Linked DNA regions of Homo sapiens. The protein of the gene in region 1 interacts with the protein of each later gene in a biochemical or structural test. Each region holds a gene or a part of one and is shown in the gene's direction. Other genes may lie near its edges. The genes, in order: TEK, PTPRG and PTPRJ.

What was found.
Region 2: of the proteins of TEK (region 1) and PTPRG, one has a biochemical effect on the other in vitro, tested with the Homo sapiens proteins (one large-scale study listed by IntAct).
Region 3: of the proteins of TEK (region 1) and PTPRJ, one has a biochemical effect on the other in vitro, tested with the Homo sapiens proteins (one large-scale study listed by IntAct).

What each region holds. Positions count from the first base shown.
Region 1 is NC_000009.12:27,115,607-27,119,336, forward strand, and holds part of TEK (angiopoietin-1 receptor isoform 1 precursor), read left to right. Parts: intron 1-3,730. UniProt on the Homo sapiens protein: Tyrosine-protein kinase that acts as a cell-surface receptor for ANGPT1, ANGPT2 and ANGPT4 and regulates angiogenesis, endothelial cell survival, proliferation, migration, adhesion and cell spreading, reorganization of the actin cytoskeleton, but also maintenance of vascular quiescence.
Region 2 is NC_000003.12:62,275,071-62,278,570, forward strand, and holds part of PTPRG (receptor-type tyrosine-protein phosphatase gamma isoform 1 precursor), read left to right. Parts: intron 1-802; coding exon 803-896; intron 897-1,901; coding exon 1,902-1,978; intron 1,979-2,480; coding exon 2,481-2,609; intron 2,610-3,500.
Region 3 is NC_000011.10:47,983,388-47,987,117, forward strand, and holds part of PTPRJ (receptor-type tyrosine-protein phosphatase eta isoform 1 precursor), read left to right. Parts: intron 1-3,730. UniProt on the Homo sapiens protein: Tyrosine phosphatase which dephosphorylates or contributes to the dephosphorylation of CTNND1, FLT3, PDGFRB, MET, KDR, LYN, SRC, MAPK1, MAPK3, EGFR, TJP1, OCLN, PIK3R1 and PIK3R2. Plays a role in cell adhesion, migration, proliferation and differentiation.

The sequences.
Region 1 (3,730 bases):
AACTTGTAGGTTGATTTTTCTGTCTTTGCAAGAACTCCTAAATAGTTGTGAATATTGCCAAAAGTCAGGTCCAGTTATAGTTATAACTTGCTCATAGCCAAATGATTTTGAAACCAAGATGAAAAGGAAAAGGGAAGAAAGGACATAGAGGGAGCAACCTATACAAAGGGGGTGTGTATAAAATAGCAGGGCAGGCTTAAGGAAGCTGAGTGAAGCTGTAATGTAGGATGAAGGTAGAGAATTAAAGTTGGGGTCAGATCAAGAAGGGCCTCACAGGCCATTTTAAGTAGGTTGTCCCTCATTCTGTACATGTTGAAATTTAGCAGAGTGTTTGTTCTATCATGTCATATATCAGATTTATGTCTTGAAAAATTCACTCTAATAATAGTTTTCAGGATGGATTAACATGGTAGAGACCATAGGCTGGGACCAAGTTGGCTTCCTAACATTCCAGGCAAGAGGACTGTGAGGATAACAGGGGGCTTGAGAGAGATTTAGGAGGTGAAACTGCAGGAGTTAGTGATTGGTTGTATATGGAAGGTTGAGAGGGAGGGAGGAGAATAAGTCATTGCTCCAGCATTCTGATTTGGATAATGGTGGTGCCATTCAGTGTGCTGAATGGAGGTGGGCTGGGATAAGGCAAATAATTATTTTGTTCATGTTGATTTTGAGGCTACATGTAAAGGAAGTTTTTTTTTTTGAGACTGAGTCTTGCTGTGTCGCCCAGGCTGGAGTGCAGTGGCACGATCTTGGCTCGCTGCAAGCTCCACCTCCCCGGTTCAAGTGATTCTCCCACCTCAGCCTCCTGAATAACTGGGATTATAGGCACCTGCCACCACACCCGGCTAATTTTTGTACTTTTAGTAGAGACGGGGCTTCACCACGTTGGCCATGTCTTGAACTCCTGACCTCATGATCCACCTGCCTTGGCCTCCCAAAGTGCTGGGATTACAGGCGTGAGCCACCGCACCTGGCCATAAAGGAAGATATTTATCAAAATTTGGCTGCCCACATCTGAAGCTCAGAGGAAGGGGATTGGGCAAGAGATTGAGATGTAGAAATCTTTGGTATATGGTAAGTGAAGCCACGGGCATGGCTATATTTCAAGATTGAAATGAAGGAACGAGAAAGAGCAGATACCCAAAAATTTGATGAAGAAGAAACAGGTAAGGAGCTGACAGGAGAAGCAAAACCAATGACATTCCTATCCTGGGACTTTAGAGAATTGCTGCTGTAGCAGCCATGGAAAGAAATTTTTTTTTTTTTTTTTTTTGAGTCGGAGTCTCGCTCAGTCCCCCAGGCTGGAGTGCAGTGGTGCGATCTCGGCTCACTGCAAGCTCCGCTTCCCAGGTTCACACCATTCTCCTGCCTCAGCCTCCCGAGTAGCTGGGACTACAGGCGCCTGCCACCACGCCCAGCTAATTTTTTTTTTTAATTTTTAGTAGAGACGTGGTTTCACTGTGTTAGCCAGGATGGTCTCGATCTCCTGACCTAGTGATCCGCCTGCCTCGGCCTCCCAAAATGCTGGGATTACAGGCGTGAGCCACTGCGCCCGGCCGGAAAGAGAATTTTAAGAAGACAGTAAGATGGGGCAGCAGAGTAACAGCCTCCGGGCCTGACACTGGAGCACCAGCCTGCAGGTGTGTTATTTTACAGAGAGCCAGCTGCACCGGCAGCATCACCAAACCAGAGCTGGAAGAGAGCAGCTGGCTTCACTCCTGGCTTTCAGGAAAGGGAATGTCTAAAGTTGCCTCCCTTATTTTTGGAATTTTGAACTGATAACCCTATTCTTACCCATCTGGCCAGACGATTCCTTAACTCGTGTTACACCTGCAGAATGAGTTTTAGATCTAGCTGTGACCTCTTCCCCCAGCCCCACCCCCATTGTCCCCTTGTGTGCCTTCAGGAATCTGATCATTCTTCTCTCCTGCTCCTTCCCAAAGGCTGCAGGAGCAGGTGTGAAGACGTGGATGTGCCAGATGCAGAGTCCTGACACTTTTCAACACATCTGCATATTAGAGGAAGTACATACCCATTGCTTGGTGGTTTCATGTCTAATGTGGTATGAGTGTGACAAAGAGAGGGAGAAAATTTGGACTAGCCAAAGAAGCCAGTCAGGCGTGGGGTTTGAAGGGCATCGTGGGCGGCTGTCATTTGCTCTCTGCTTGTCACAGCCCCTTGCCCAGGGCTTGACCAGTGAGGTGTATGTGCTGGTCACACCCATCTCAGCAGATCTGTCAGCTTTCCCGCTTTTGTTAAAGGGTGATATCATGCTTCCTGGGGGGAGCACTGGAAGACAATGCTCGGCCACTTTCCTCCAGATACAATAGGCGGAGTCAGGAAGGCAGTATTGACATTGCTGGGGCTGGGGAGGCACTCACTGCTCTGCGGCCGTCAGATGGTGAACCAGCTTAACCTTGGCACACAGGGCCTGGGTTGTGCAAGGCGTCTGGCTGCAGAGCCAAAGGGGACTCCACCCTGGGGACAGGAGTGCTTTAGACATCTGGGAATCTGGGATGGGCTTCAAATTCTGATCCCTGTGTCAGAAACAACCACAAAACAATAAGAGTACCAGTAATAACAAAAATGACTACCCTAGGTTGAATGCCTTTATGTGCCAAGTGTTAAATATGATTTTTAATATTTCACAACTTTACACTATAGGTATTATTATTTTTTTAATAGACAGGGAAACCAAGGCTCACAAAGGTTAAGTGACATGTCCAAGGTTAAAATGTAAGTGACCAGCCAGGTGTGGTGGCTCGTGCTTGTAATCCCAGCACTTTGGGAGGCCAAAGCAAGCAGATTGCTTGAGCCAAGGAGTTCGAGACCATCCTGGGCAATATAGGGAGACCCATCTCTACAAATAATACAAATATTGGCTGGGTATGGTGGCACACACCTGTGGTCCCAGCAACCCGGGAGGCTGAGATAGATGGATCGCTTTAGCCTGGGGGTTTTAGGCTGCATGAATGTCGTGATCATGCCGCTGCATTCCAGCCTGAGTGACATAGTGAGACCTCATCTTAACAACAACAAACCGGAAAATGGCGGCCATCCATTATTTTGGATGCCTAACATTTCAAACTTTCAAGAACTGCCGTGCTTTCCCTCTAGGTGATTCTGATGGGTCTGCCAATCACTGGTCACAGAATGTCCCAGCCAACTAACAACAGCAGTTGGTTCAAACAGAAGATGCACAACCCAACAGGGCCAGTTAGACTCTTTCCCTGGGAATTTATGAGCACTTTGAAAGCAAAAGCCTCTCTTTCTTCATAGAGGACACTGTATCCCTGGAGCTACCAACTTCGCTGACCACTTGAAGGAAGCTAGTCTTTAGTACGAGAGAATGAGGCCAATAACAAAAGATGGACCAAGACAGGCACTCTGATAGCATTTGAGACGTGGGTCCAAGGATTTTCAAACACGCAGCCCTGCCTCTTTCAGTTCTGTGAGCTAGTTTCTTTTATTTGTTTAAGCTATTTTGAGTTAGCTTCTATCCCTTGGAAGTGAATCATCCTGACTGACCACATGTCTCAGTAGGAAATGATGGAGACAAGAGTTACACTGAAAAATGACCTGAACCCGAATCCTGGGCTCTTTAAAACACCTCACTGTGCTGCCTTCGAACTAGTGTTTCATGGTCACCTCAGGTTAGTTCCTAGAAAATGAAGGTAACAGCATTTCTTCATGTGGTTTTGGGGAAGACCTTTTAAAAAAAATAACTTAA
Region 2 (3,500 bases), on another chromosome or scaffold:
TGGAGAAGAACACTGATCTCATATACTCCATTAGGATGGATGCCAGCCCCCAAAAAATAGGATTGACAAAATGGTTCAACCAAGCTACATAAACAGGAATAATAATCAAACTACTGGGCTGGTTACTTATAAAAGCCTTAGAACAATGTTAGTTCAGTTCAACAGAAATGTACTGAGAACTAGTTAAGTACTCCTTTATCTTCAAGAAACTTGATTAGCTCGTAATCAATAGCATTAAGCAATCTTTTTTAATGTAGACTCACGTAGGTCTTTTATGCCAGTGAGGATCACAGAAAAAAATTCACAGCAGCAGTGACATCACATAACAGAAGAATCCACATAGTTCTAGAAATATCTATTGCACACAGTACCTATTTCTACCTGATAGTAGAAATAAGAAAGATACAATCAAGGTCACTGAGAGAAGTACCACTAGGAAAGCACAAGAGTGTTCTCTGGGGCTGGGCATGGTAGATTACACCTGTAATCCCAGAGCAGCCTGGGAAACACAGGAAGACCCCAATTCTATAAACAATTTTAAAAATTAGCTGGTTGTGCTGATGCACCTGTGGTCCTAACTACTCAGGAGGCTGAGGTGGGAGGATCACAGTTAACTGAGCTACAATCATGCCACTGCACTCCAGCCTGGGCAAGAGAGCAAGACCCTGTGTCTTAAAAGGTTCTTTGTGGCACAGAAATGGTCTTGTTTATCAGTAATCTGATTGGGATTTTTGCCAAAGCATCAAGCAAATGCTATCAATTATATCTTTGAATGAAGACTAAAATGTTTTTTCTTTTTCAGCTGGTCACACAGTGTAATGCAAAATATGTGGAATGTTTCAGTGCTCAGAAAGAGTGTAACAAAGAAAAGAACAGAAACTCTTCAGTTGTGCCATGTAAGACTTTAAAACAGTTTGTTAGTGATCTTTTATACTGGATTGTATGTTAGGTACAGAGGCAGCCACTACTCTGATGCTATTGATAGCACCCTTCAATTGTACTGTACGTGGCCGTATGGTAGAAGGTTTTGAAAATGTCCTTTTAGTAACCTCATTAATGTATGACTTTATACCAGCCTCTTACCTGGTACTACCAAAAGGGAAAATGTTATGCTTATTCAACTAAGGTAGTTTAATGAAACTGGGAGAGGTGGTTGTCAGTGTCAGCAAGTGCTCCATCTATCTGACGTAGAATACAGCTTCATTTCACCTTGGAATGCAAGAATTGGGTTACTTCTACCATATTATAACATAAAAAATAATAATAAAGCTGTTATTGCTGTGGCATTAACATTCCTCTAAAACTTAGAATCCTGGATTAATCTGTACAACTAGAACTACCTTATTCAGTTACTGTGGCTATTGAGATCAAGGCACTGTTGATTGGTGGTGACCTTTGTATAAATAGCTAAGGACATTGCAGAGGATGCTGTCTGTGTGCTGTAGGCATAGACATGGGTGATCATTTGGGAGATTTATCTCTAATGAAAAAGGCCACTCTTTTCTAAGACCATCATGAGCAGAAAGACATGGAGAAAGGGGTTGGTAAAAGGACAAAGTATATGTTGGTATAATTGTAGGAATAACAAACTAGAGTCAAAAGTTATCTAAAATCCTCTGTTGTGTCCATATAAAGTATTCTGTTATTGATCTGCTGTAAAAATCTCTCCCACAGTAAAACTGTATTCCTACAATGCCTGTGTCCTTCTGGGTATGTGCAGCAAAATTTCATTTTACATTCTGCCTCAGCTGATAACACTTTAGCTTGTTTAAAAATATAGATAAGTCTTAGAAAGGGAAGCCAGGAGGATATGTTATTCATCAAGCAAATCTCAGAAAGAGCTGTTGGTTCTGTGTGTATAATAAGGCAAATGTGGTGTTTTTGTTTTTTCCATATGATAGCTGAGCGTGCTCGAGTGGGTCTTGCACCATTGCCTGGAATGAAAGGAACAGATTACATTAATGCTTCTTATATCATGGTGAGAGTCAACAGTTAATTATAAATAAAGTCAACTAAACTGAAAGGTGTTAAAGAGCAGATACCACCTGTGTGACTGATGTCATTTTTGAAATAATTTCTCAATGTGTAATATGAAAAGTATAGAGATTTCTGTATCTTGAAACTTTTAACAAAAGATACCTAATCAGTGCTGGTACAAAAATGCTTAAATTAAGCAGAATGCTTCTTAAGGAATTAATTTTATTGTTAATTTCACACATCTAGTCTTTGAATAAATGTTGAAATTTCCCTTAAGTGAAAACAGCAGGGTTAACTAGAAGTGAACTGCACATGGAGAGAAAATTGTCTGCACAGTGCTAGCAGAAGTACATCTAAAAATTAGCCAAATGTACCGAATGCCTTTCTCAATTATTTTAGTGTAGTCAAAACAGTGCTATCTTATTTCATGAATATATTTTACTACCACAAAGTTAGAATAAAACACTCATATTCACTGATTTTTTTTGTCTTCCCAACTGAAGGGCTATTATAGGAGCAATGAATTTATTATAACTCAGCATCCTCTGCCACATACTACGAAAGATTTCTGGCGAATGATTTGGGATCATAACGCACAGATCATTGTCATGCTGCCAGACAACCAGAGCTTGGTAAGTAAAGCACATCTGCTATATATTAATGAGCCCATGAGGCTACAAGCATAAATTACTTTGATACTTTGCCATAGGGCTATAGTATCCATATATGCTAGGGAGGGAATTTAAAATTTTTAAATTCTCATCTTGAAGTCTGTGGAGATTCCTTTCATAGTCTCACAATACTGTCCCTATCAGTTCCATTACTTGAGTCTCTGATGCTATTGATATCACCCTTCAATTGTACTGTCTGTGGCGGTGTGGTAGAAGGTTTTGAAAATGTTTTTAGTAACCTCATTAATATATGACTACACCAACCTCTTCCCTGCTGTATGTCACTTTTGAAAAGTAAATAATTGTAGCTTACAGGTACTGAGTATGTAACTGTGTTTACATGCATTAACTTGTTTAATTCTCAACAATTTTAAGACATACATACTATTATTATCTCATGTAATAGCTGAGAAAACTGAGAACAAACTTGCTCAAGAGAGCACACACAAGTAACTGGAGCCAGGATTTTAACCTGAGTCATCTGTCTCCAGAGACCATGCTTATATAATCATTTTACTGTATGTCTTACCCCAAAATATTGTATCAAAAGTACTAATAGTGAATTTTTTTTTCCCACTCCATAGGCAAGTCAGGTCTACTGCAGGGATAGGCTATTTTGTTCCCACTTAAAGGTCTTTAGGACTGAGCTGCTACTACTTTTCCCTCCCTTAGTCCTTCTCTATTTCAGTCTCTAAACTATACAGAAGGGTGAGCAAGTTTATAAAACAGACTTAAATGTTTCTGCTTAGATCTTGTGGATACTTAAGTTTCGGAATTAGCTGGGTCTATAAAAGTTACTGTGTGGACATGTGAACCCATGAGGTAAAAACAAAAAACAGTGAGGATCTGCCT
Region 3 (3,730 bases), on another chromosome or scaffold:
TGTGCTTATGTGTGTGTTATAAAATGGAATCAACTATACCAGGTTAAACAAATGGACAAGTCATGGAAAAGACACAGCTCTGTTTGGACATTAATAAGGGCGGGTGTGGAAGCTGGAAAGCTGAGATGCCGGAAGGCTCAGTGCTTAGTAGGCCCGGAAAAGCAATTTTTGAACTGGCATCTCATTCCCCTTTTCTAAGACAGGAAGGACGGTCAGAGATGATTCCAACATGAGGACTTTGCTAGTTGCAGTGTCTGACTCCTCCCATTCTCATAGCAGTTTTGCACAGTAGTTTTGGTTTGTGTGTATGTTTTAGGCAATGTGACAAAGCAGTTTTCCTCCTGCCTCCTTGAGAAATTTAATCCTGACAGGTTCTTTAAGAAATCAGCTTGATGTGGGCTGATTTTAAAAGAATAAATGAAAAAAAAAAGCTGGTGACTGATAGCTGTTTTATTGGTCTTGTAGTGTTTTGGTTTTGTTTTATCTTCACTTTCTTGTTTCCTGGTGAATAATAACTGGGTTTATTATCTCTCATGGCTAATCCTTAAGCCTGATTCCTTACCTGTTCCATCCAGAGTACAAAGTATATTTTGACTCCTCTTTAAACTGCTTGTTAGATTCTCATATGAGTGACTTTAAATATTTTTGTTTTGCTTCAGGACAACGGGAAAACCAAACGATTATGTTTTGTTTGCAGACAGTTTACGAAAACAGCAAATTGGTTTATGGTTAGACCGTGACTTTGAGCTGACTTCAAGTTGGGCCCCACGATAAAGATAACCATGGAATACCCAAGCTTTCCTAAGCAGAGAGGATCCTGGCTTCCAAATGAGCAATTTTGGTCAGCAAAGGGGTTATTTAGCTCCTAAAAGTAATTTTTGCTTGAGGTTGGGGCTGAGGCAGAGTGGCTGAACAACCGTAGGCCTGGGTGTAGCCAGAGGATCATCAGTAATTACTTCTCAGTTCATTCACTTCTTGGGCTAGGGAATTATTTTGAGTGCAGGATAAGAGGCAATTTTCTGTGTGTTTCCCTTCTAATATAATGCCACTGATGATATTATAATTAATAGGTAACATTATGCATGACAGGCACTGTGTGCTAAGGGTTTTAATGCATTATTTCATTTGGCCATTTCAGAAATACCAAGAGGTAGGTGCTGTTCTTGTTTATTTGTTTGTTTTTTTTTTTGATAGGGAGTCCCACTCTGTCACCCAGGCTGGAGTGCAATGGTGCAATCTTGGCTCACCGCAACCTCCACCTCCTGGGTTCAAGTGATTCTCTTACCTCAGCCTCCCGAGTAGCTGGGATTACAGGCGTATGCCGCCATACCTGGCTACTTTTTGTATTTTTAGTAGAGATGGGGTTTCACCATGTTGGCCAGGCTGGTCTTGAACTCCTGACCGTAGGTGATCTGCCTGCCTTGGCCTCACAAAGTGCAGGGATTATAGGCGTGAGCCACTGTGCCCGGCCTTTTTTTTTTTTTGAGATGAAGTCTAGCTCTGTTGCCAGGCTGGAGTACGGTGGTGTGATCTTGGTTCACTGCAACCTCCGCCTCCTGGGTTCCAGGGATTCTCCTGCCTCAGCCTCCCAAGTACCTGGGATTACAGGCACGTGCCGCCATGCCCAGTTAATTTTTGGATTTTTATTAGAGACAGGGTTTCAGCATGTTGGCCAGGATGGTCTTGATCTCCTGACCTCATGATCTGCCCACCTCGGCCTCCCAAAGTGTTGGGATTACAGGCGTGAGCCACCGTGCCCGGCCTGTTTTTGTTTTTAAGAGACAGGGTCTTGCTTTGTCACCCAGGCTGGAGTGCAGTGGTACAAACGTAATTCACTGCAATCTCAACCTCCTGGGCTCAAGGGCTCCTCTCGTTTTAGCCTCTCAAGTATCTGGGACTAAAGGCGTGTGCTACCATTCCTGGCTAATTTTTTTTTTTAATAGAGATGGTGTCTCGCTATGTTGCCCAGTCTGGTCTTGAACCTCTGGGCTCAAGTGATCTGCCCACCTTGGCTCCCCAAAGTGTTGGGATTACAGGCATGAACCACTGCACCCAGCCATGTTTTTATTTTATCTGAGAGAAAACTGAGGTTCAGAACTTAACTGTATACTTCTGGAATCTTCACAGAGAAATAAAAAAAAAGAAAAATAATTTACTATAGATTCATTAACTACTACGTGGCGGAGCCAGGGCTGATGTCTCCACTGCCCCAATTTACCATCCTGTGCTGTAAAAAGTCATGGAGAAGGTTTTCTGTGTGCAGCTAAGAGAGGAGGTGGCAGACATTTATTTATTTATTTATTTATTTATTTATTTATTTATTTATTTATTGAGACGAAGTCTCACTCTGTTGCCTGGGCTGGAGTGCTGTGGCACGATCTCGGCTCACTGCAACCTCCATCTCCCGGGTTCAAGCGATTCTCCTGCCTCAGCCTGCTGAGTAGCTGGGATTACAGACGTGCGCTACCATGCGCAGCTAATTTTTGTATTTTTAGTAGAGATGAGGTTTCGCCATGTTGACCAGGCTGGTCTTGAACTCCCAACCTCAGGTGATCCGCCCACCTCGGCCTCCCAAAGTGCTGGGATTACAGGCCTGAGCCACCGCACCTGGCCCAGACATTTTTTAGACAGTCTTGCTGTGTTGCCCAGGCTGGACTCGAACTCCTGGGTCCAGTTGACATCCCTCTTCATCCTTCCAAGTAGCCAGGACTGCAGGGACATGCTACCTTTATTTTGGGTTCTTTGTGTCCTAAACCCTGTATGATCTGCTCCATTTGTAACACAGAGAACCCAGGTGCCCTCTTTCCTGCTTATATTTCTTTGGGGCCTCAGTTTACAAGGCAAGTCTGCCTTTGTGGAGATAGACTGGGGTCTGGGATGGAAAGACCTGGGTTTGGGTCTTTGCTCTGCCACTGCATAAACTCAGCAAGTCACTTAACCTCTGTGACTTCTCATTTCCTTATCTGGAAAATGGGACTAACACTTCCTGCTTCACTGGGTGGTTGAGAGGATCAAATAAGATAGAAAAGGAATTGCTACGTAACACCTAAAGCAAGGCCCAACTGCTAGTTGTGGCTGCTGCTGTTACTTGGAGAGAAGAAATGAGGCCCCAGATCATTAGTTCATATGACAATTTTTTCTTTTTTTAAGACGGAGTCTCACTCTGTTGCTTAGGCTGGAGTGCAGTGGCGTGATCTCCACTTACTGCAACCTCCGCCTCCCGGGTTCAAGCAATTCTACTGCCTTAGTCTCCTGAGTAGCTGGGACTACAGGCACGCTCCGTCATGTCTGGCTAGTTTTTGTATTTTAGTTGAGACGGGGTTTCACCACATTGGCCAGGCTGGTCTTTAACTCCTGACCTCAGGTGATCCACCTGCCTTGGCCTCCCAAAGTGCTGGGATTACAGTCTGAGCCACCACGCCTGGCCCATATGACAAATATTTATGAAGTGTTTTCCACAGAGTAGTATGGAATAACTCTGGGTGTGTGCAAGATGAACTGAGCTCAGTCACAATACTTTTTTTTCCCCTAATGTTAAGAATTATTGGCTGGGCAGGGTGACTCATTCCTTTAATCTCAGCACTTTGGAAGGCAGAGGTGGGAGGATCAGGTGAGCCCAGGAGTTTGAGACCAGCCTGGATGACAAAGTGAGACCTTGTCTATACAAAAAATTAGCTGGGCATGGTGGTGTGGACCTGTGGTCCCACCTACTTGAGAGGCTGAGTTGGGA